2 linked regions of the Homo sapiens genome follow. The protein of the gene in region 2 interacts with the protein of the main gene of each other region in a pairwise test. Each region holds a gene or a part of one and is shown on either strand. Other genes may lie near its edges.

Evidence for each region.
Region 1: the proteins of MAP4K2 (region 2) and NACAD interact in a two-hybrid assay, tested with the Homo sapiens proteins (one large-scale study listed by BioGRID and IntAct).

What each region holds. Positions count from the first base shown.
Region 1 is NC_000007.14:45,085,879-45,090,151, forward strand, and holds the start of NACAD (NAC-alpha domain-containing protein 1), read right to left. Parts: upstream 3,092-4,273; 5' UTR 3,017-3,091; coding exon 2,950-3,016; intron 235-2,949; coding exon 1-234. UniProt on the Homo sapiens protein: May prevent inappropriate targeting of non-secretory polypeptides to the endoplasmic reticulum (ER).
Region 2 is NC_000011.10:64,793,198-64,796,998, reverse strand, and holds part of MAP4K2 (mitogen-activated protein kinase kinase kinase kinase 2), read left to right. Parts: coding exon 1-17; intron 18-105; coding exon 106-190; intron 191-285; coding exon 286-365; intron 366-445; coding exon 446-506; intron 507-608; coding exon 609-726; intron 727-3,801. UniProt on the Homo sapiens protein: Serine/threonine-protein kinase which acts as an essential component of the MAP kinase signal transduction pathway.

The sequences.
Region 1 (4,273 bases), on a different chromosome or scaffold from region 2:
ACAGGCCCTCAGGGAGGAGCATGGGGCTTGGGCCGCCCTCCCCTGGGTCCGCCCAGGCCGAGGGTGCCCCACCAGGCCCTGCATCCCAGCTGGCTCCCTCGGGCTGGGGCCGGGCACCCGGCTTGCTGGGCAGGAACGTGAGGGCCAGGTGGCTGGGCCCTGGGGTCAGAGCACAGGGCTCCCGCCGGTCCCCTCCCAGGATGGTGGTGGCAGCGGCCGCATCGCAGGACAGATCTGTGGAGATAGAGAAGATCATGAGGTGCCCCTGGATGCATCTCCCAGGCAAGGGCCAGGCCCGGGGAGATGAATTCCGGCTGCATAGGGCCCAGAGGAAGGTGGATCCAGGAAGGCAGGAGAGAAAAGAGAAGACCCTCTGCACGCTGCGTTTGAGGGAGAACTTCCAGGAGTTTTGACAGCAGAGAGCAGATGCTAGTGGTTTCCTAGAGAGGGGTTTTGAGGGAAGTGTTGCTGGGAGTCATGAACAGACCTGTCTGGCGGCTTTTCTCAAGGACACCTCAGCAAAGAACTAGCATTTCAGCCTCTCTGGGGAGACTGGATTGCAGTTTCCATTCCACAGAATCAGTGTGGTTCAGCTGGGCTCGGTGGGAGGGGCTGGTGGTGGGAATCTGCCAGGCAGTGCCAGTCCCATCCCATGACCTCCCAATAGATGCGCCACATGAGGCAGGTGGCACCAGCACGACGCGCGCAGCTCGAACACTCTGGGCTTCATGCCTCGCTCTGCCTCCTCTCTCTGCTGTCCTTGCTACCTACACTTGAGGCCAACATGTCAGGGTTTCACCAGGCCCCTCTGACCCTGCTCCCCTCCTGCACCCAGGGAGATGGGGAAGCCAGGGGCCACCACACGCAGCCAAGTTTCTGGAGAACAGAGATGAAGTGTCCCGTGGAGGCTTTGCTGGAGCATCTGGCCACAAGGGCAGTGGTGGGCAGGAACGGAGACCATGGAGCCCAGCAAGAGCACAGGACAGCTTCAGAGGGCCAACAGCAGCCTCTGGCTGAGTCCTCTCCTTGGTGGCAGCCACCCCATGGGTGACCACCAGTTCCTTCCCGGGTGCTGGGAGTTCCCACCCTGCCCTGTGGGCCTTCTCTGGGTCCCATGATGCACTCCCCCAACCCGCTGGGCAGGCTTCAGTATGAGGAGGCTCTGGTACTCAGTAAACGTCTGTGAGCTAACACACCTCCAGCTGAGAAAGGAGTCCATAGGAAGTAGCCCTCATGGGTCAGAAAGGACTTAGGGGACTCAGGAAGATGGAAGAAAACCCCTCCGAGGTTGCGGCACACCAGACCGCTATGGTTTTCTGCCTCCTGGACTCTTACTGGCCTGTATTTTATCACAGGCGAGATCACATTGCACATTCAGTTTTGAATCTAGCTATTTTCACCCAACCTAATCTCATAAGCATTTTCCTGTGTGCTCTAAATGCTCATAAGCTTCATTTTAAATGTCTCCATTATGTCCACTCCCTCACTTGGACCTAGGCCAAAGGCACCTCTGTTTGAAGCATCCAATGAAGGCCCTTCAGAGCCCAGGCCAGGTCTTGCCCAAGGTGGGGGAGCGGCGGCACACAGGGGCCAGCTCTCCAGGCTGCAGATGCCTGCCTGGTGGCTCCTGCTCTCCCGCACTCACTGGTGACCAGGACAACATCTCTTGCACCTCAGCTTTCTCATCTACAAAGCAGAGCCAGGATTAGAGTTGAAGCTGAAAGAAGGGGGACCCTGTTGCCAGGCTGCTCCAGCTCCCCTCAGCAGCATCAGAGCCCTGAGCCCTGAACCACCAGCCAAAACTTGTCACCCAAGGGCTTTGCTGCTGGGGTGATGGGACATCCAGGGGGTCCTGAGACAAGGGGGTCCTTTGGGTTCTTGCATGCCTGACACCCAACATCAGGAGTGGGCGTGGCTGGTGGGGCATCACTGGGTGCCCTGAAGCTGGGCTCTTGGTTCTGGCCCCTGGTGTGGCCCCCAGGGCAGGGGAACGGCTGAGCTGTTGGGATGGAGCAGAAACCAAAGGCCAAAGGTTTTTATAACTCATTCAAGGTCACCAAGCAAGCCAGAACAGAGCCAGCACAAGACCCTGGGGCTGGGAAGTCTGGGCCTGCACTCCCTGCCTCCCACCTAGAGCAGAGGCAGCAGCCTGTGTCACCCCAAACCAGGCCCCAGGCCCCAGCAGTGGTCCCATCTCTGGGTGACTTCTTGCCCACAGCAAGGTGCCCTTGGCCCTACCCACACATGGCTGACCTCCACGCCAGGACTGTCCAGGCTCGGCTCTTTCTAGGCCCCGTAGACCCCATCAGCCTCCACCAGCATTTGTTGACCCAGCCTAAGGACAGGTGGTCTGCACACCCAGGGCCATTGCTAATCAGGCCACCTCCCCCAAGGCCTTCCACCTTCCAGACCCAACTTAGGCTTTATTCCACCACCTGGCCCTCCATCCGGGCTTCCTAGGCTCTGGCCAGTCCTGCTCCTCCCTCCAGAGCCATGACCAGTCGCCGGCCCAGGACAGACCGGGTGCAACTGAGGACCCTCCCGGTGGTCACCTGATCGTACTGGGGGTATCAGCCGGACACCCCGCCTCCAGAACCCGCTGCCTCTGTCCAGAGCGGCCCAGCCCCAGCAGGCTGGCAGCTCGGTGCAAACAACGGGATGCAGCGGGCGGGATGCGAGCCCCACGATCCCTGGGTCGGAAGCCAAGGGCTTAAGCCCCCACGTTCTTTCTGGCTCGCGGCGGGCACTTCGTGCGCCCCACCTTCCCCGCAGTTCTGAGAGAGGCGGTAGCAGGGTTCAGATGGAGGGAAGGACAGGGCGCGGAAAGGGGAGGGGACTCGAGGGGGGCCAGGGGGATGGGGGAGAGGGGTGAAAGGTGAGCGATGGAAAGAGAACCCGGGCTGGAGAGGGGAGAGGCTGAAGGCAGGGAAAGAGTGGCCACGGCCTCACCTGTGCGGGGCCCGGGTCGGTCCGCCTCGGGCAGCAGCAGCTCGGCGCGGGCAGCCTCCCCAGGCATGGCCTGGCCGTGCGCCCGCCCGTCCCTCAGTCCTTCCGACCCTCCGTCAGTCCGTGCCGCCGCCCCGCCGAGCCTGCGCGGCCACCGCCCCTCGGCCGGGCGGTGGGGGCAGTGGGTGACGTCAGGCCGCCCCGCCCGCCTGTCCCAGCGAGTGAGCGTGCGCGGGCTCGCCAGGCACTGCGGAGGGCGTAGGGGGGGCTCCCTCCCCGCCCCCACCCCACCCGGCTGTGGCCTCCCTCTCGCTGTGGGCGGTTTCGTGGGGGAGCGGGGGTGGGCGCCTGCGCCCGGTCCCACCCTTTCCACAGCATTTACGAGGGAGGGTTTCAGGGCCAATTGGAAGCTGGGTTGCCTCAGGGTGGCATTCGCCCGTGGCCAGGAAGAGGCGGGGACGCCCCTAGAACCCTGGTTGTGGGAGGCTGGGGAGGTGGTTGGGATTCTGGGATGCTCGGAGCGCTTTGGGTGGAGTTGGCGGCGCAGCCTCCTTCCCCGCTGACCAAGCAGAGGGTGCAGGGCCTGGGGAGGGAGGGGGCCCCGCCCAGCCCGATGCCTCCATGCAAAAGGTGAGCTGGAGCTGCAGCTCTGGAGTGATTGGCTGGTCCTGGCAGTCGTCGGTCTCCGTGGCAACCGCCTCCTGTCTCCATGGCAACCAGGGATGGAGCCGACGAGAGCGCACCAGGGAAGGCGACCCGGATGGGTCGGTCTCCAGGTCTCTAGGCAACTCGGTGATCTGTCCTATCATCTCCCCTCCACCCCCACACTAGGCAGTAGAAGGAAAAGGAAGAAAGTGTTTCCCTCTATTCCTGGCAGCACCCTCTGCCACACCTCCCAGGAGGAAGCCCGCCCCGTGAATTTCCTGAAATGCCTCTTGCTTTCACACAGGCTACTGCGCCACCCAGATTCACTGAGCACCCCTCCTCCCCCGTGCCAGGCACCAGGGAGACAGATGAATGAGACATTGTCATCACCCCTGACTGGGGTGGGGGGAATCAGAGTAGCCATTGTCACAGGCAGGGAGGGAGGTTTCAACATCCTCAGTCTTCTGTGGGTTCTAACTTTGAGCTCATGAAGCCAGGGGCTGCCCTCTGACTCCCCCAGACCTGCCTCAAGGCTCAGTGCTACACACCTGGCTGCCTGCTGGGCATCTCTCCCCGCTGTACCCCAGGAGTCAGACACACCACACCATTAGAATTAACATCAACTTCAAACAATCTCTTCCAGAAAACAAAAGAGAAGGGGACACTTCCTAACTCATTTTAT
Region 2 (3,801 bases):
CAACTCCCAAGGTGCATGTAAGTGTTTGCCCCAAGCCCTGCAGTCCCACAGCCCTGCCACCCACCACCCCTGCACTCCCTCGCCAGCCTCTTGCCTCCTCTGCAGATGGGCGCCTGCTTCTCCAAGGTCTTCAATGGCTGCCCCCTGCGGATCCACGCTGCTGTCACCTGGATTCACCCTGTTACTCGGGGTAGGTGGGGGCAGGGAGGAAGCGGGAGCCCAAGGAATCCCTCAGCTTGGGCCAGGGGCCATGTCTGACCTCTGACCCCATGCCCAAACTGGCAGACCAGTTCCTGGTGGTAGGGGCCGAGGAAGGCATCTACACACTCAACCTGCATGAACTGCATGAGGATACGCTGGAGAAGGTGAGGCCCGGCTGGCTGTGGGGGGCAGAGGCCTTGTGGGGGCCTGGGGTGCTGACCATCTGTCCCTCTGTGGCCTCCAGCTGATTTCACATCGCTGCTCCTGGCTCTACTGCGTGAACAACGTGCTGCTGTCACTCTCAGGTACAAGGTGGGATGGGCAGGGAGGCAGGGTCCGCAGGGGCTCCAGCGCCTCAGCATCCTGCCCACCAACACCCCAGGCCTGGCCTCTTCCTGTTTCTGCAGGGAAATCCACGCACATCTGGGCCCATGACCTCCCAGGCCTGTTTGAGCAGCGGAGGCTACAGCAACAGGTTCCCCTCTCCATCCCCACCAACCGCCTCACCCAGCGCATCATCCCCAGGTCAGGGATCTTGGGCGTGCAGGGAGCGGGAGGCAGAGGGGCAGGGAGGGGCTGGAACATGGCCTTGCCAGTTCCTGGGATTGCAGCAATCTTAGACGTGTTGTCTCTCTGAGCGCCCGTTTCCTCCTCTGTCAATACAATTGATGGCCTTCCCACCCCCTCCCGCCGGCTTGTTGGGAGGCAAGAAGGAGACAGTGGATGTGAAAGTGCTTTCCAAGTTGTAGGAGCTGTGGTTGTTCGGATGTGGGGCTTGACAGTTAAGCAAACGTTTACTGAGCACTTATGCTATGTTGGCCCCTATGCTGGGCTTCGGGACATGGAGAATCCCATGAGTCCTCGCTTTCAAGAAATGGGGGAGATGGGCAAGTCCTTGCTTTCAAGGATTCCCATGAGTCCTTGCTTTCAAGGATTCCCATGAGTCCTTGCTTTCAAGAAACAGCGGGGCTGGGTGTGGTGGTTCATGCCTGTAATCCCAATCCTGTAATCCGAGGCAGAAGGATTGTGTGAGGCCATGTGTTTGAAATCAGCCTGAAAACACAGGGAGACCTTGTCTCTACAAAAAATCAAAAAAGTCTGGGCGGGGGGGCTCACGCCTGTAATCCCAGCACTTTGGGAGGCCAAGGCGGATGGATCACGAGGTCAGGAGATGGAGACTATCCTGGCTAACATAGTGAAACCCCGTCTGTACTAAAAATACAAAAAAAATTAGCCGGGCGTGGTGGCACATGCCTGTAGTCCCAGCTACTCGGGAGGCTGAGACAGGAGAATCGCTTGAACCTGAGAGGCAGAGGTTGCAGTGAGCCGGGATCACGCCACTGCACTCCAGCCTGGCCGACAGCAAGAGTCTGTCTCAAAAAAGAAAGAAAAAAAGCCCAAAAAATCAAAAAATGGGGCCAGGCGCAGTGGCTCAGGCCTATAATCCTAGCACTTTGAGAGGCCGAGGTGGGCGGATCATGAGGTCAGGAGTTTACGACCAGCCTGGCTAATATGGTGAAACCCCGTCTCTACTGAAAATACAAAAATTAGCTGGGTGTAGTGGTGCGCACCTGTAGTCCCAGCTACTCGGGAGGCTGAGGCAGAAGAATCACTTGAACCCTAGAGGCAGAGGTTGCAGTGAGTGGAGATTGCACCACTGCACTCCAGCCAGGGCGACAGAGTGAGACTGCATCTCAAAAAAAAAAAAAAAAAAAATCGAAAACTTAGCTGAGCATGGTGATGTAGGCATGGCGTTGTGTGTTGGTGGTCCCAGCCACTCAGGAGGCTGAGGTGGGAGGATTGCTTGAACCCAGGAGGTTGAGGTTGAAGTGAACTGTGATCGCGATCGTACCACTGCATTGAAGCCTGGGCAACAGAGCAAGACCTTGTCTCAAAAAAAAGAAAAAGGGAAATGTGGACAGTTAGCAGCCGGTACTGAGGTCCAGTTAGAGGGAGAGCTGGGAGGTGTGGAGAGGCCTCAGAGACCGGGCAAGCTTGGGAGGTTCGAAAGTGTGTCAGGGTTTCTAGGCAGGTGAGGTAGGGAATGGCACTCCAGGCAGGGGGAAGAGCAAGTATATGTTAGTATGTGTTGGGGCGGAGCAGCCTGGTGAGCTGGGGAGCTGTTAAGAGTTTGCCTGGGGGCCAGGCACAGTGGCTCACGCCTGTAATCCCGCACTTTGGGAGGCTTTGGCGAGTGGATCAACTGAGTCAGGAGTTCGAGACCAGCCTGGTCAACATGGCGAAACCCCGTCCCTAGTAAAAATACAAAAATTAGCCGGGCATGGTGGCGGGCGCCTGTAATCCCAGCTACTCGGGAGGCTGAGGCAGGAGAATAGCTTGAACCTGGGAGGCGGAGGTTGCAATGAGCCGAGATCGCACCATTGCACTCCAGCCTGGGCAACAGAGCAAGACTCCGTCTCAAAAAAAAAAGAAAAACAGAAGAGAAAAACAGTCAGATTCTGATTCTCTTTTGCAAGTTGAGCCAGTAGGATTTCCTGATGAAAGAGAAAGAGGAGTCAAGGATGGCTCCAAGGTTTTTGGCCTGGGTGTCAGGAAGAATGCAGCTGTCATCAGCTGAAGGTGGAGCAGTTTCAGGGGGAGCTGAATTCAATTTTGTTGCATGAACATGCTTATTAGATGTGCAAGTGGGACCTGCGTCAGTCCATGGCTTGGTGGGGCTGGGCTCTGAAGGGAGGGGCCCTGGGCTATGGGCCCCCGACATTGTCATGACCAGGTGGGTGGTGTGGGAAGCAGTGGACTGAGTGCAGAGGGTAGGGGAGGCCAGGCCAGTGGCTGCAACAGCTGGGGAGCTCAGGAGCCCCCTTCCTGCAACGTGCTCACTCCAGGACCACATCTGGAGCCCGGTGGCCTTGGGGCTTCCTGAGCTCAGTCCCCAAGTGAGTCTGCTTTGGCGCAGGACCTACAGGAAACAGGCCCATCAGAGCCCCAACAGGTCACAGGCAGCTTTGAGCTTGTGTTCGGGAAATGGCAGAGGCACAGTGAGCACTTTGAATGCAAAGAACAGAGAACTGGAGTTGTTTGGAGAAAAAACAAATACAAAATATATGCTTTTGTCCCATCCAAAGACCAGATGGGGAGGAGAGTGGGAGGAATGTGGGGAGAGGGAGGGACGAGGACCAGGGACAGTGAGAGACAGACATTGGCTTCCTCCATGTCCTGGCAGAAGGTACAAACAGGACATGGGCCACTGGGTGGAGGTGGCAGGGCTGCTGACAGGAAGCCCCATTCCCCAGAGGAAGAAACAGGCTGAGAGGGTCCCCTGGAGGGTTAGGGGACACTCAGTGGCCAAGGCAACGGCCCCTCTGATAACTTTTCCTCACTACTTCTACCCCGACAGCAAGGCAAGCCACCCCCTGGCCCCACAGGGCTGTTGCCTCTGCTGGAGAAGCAGAGGGCAGGCCATTTGCCTTTTGAAGTTCATTCACTGCCCCGGGCCTGTTTTCCCATCTGTGAAATGGGCCGTGTGCAGTCTGTGCAACCTGGTGGGGCTGGAGCCTGCATCCTCCCCAGCCCCTCCATGCTCTCATTTCTTCATTCCTTTTTTCTTTTTCTTTTTTTTTGAGACCGAGTTTCACTCTC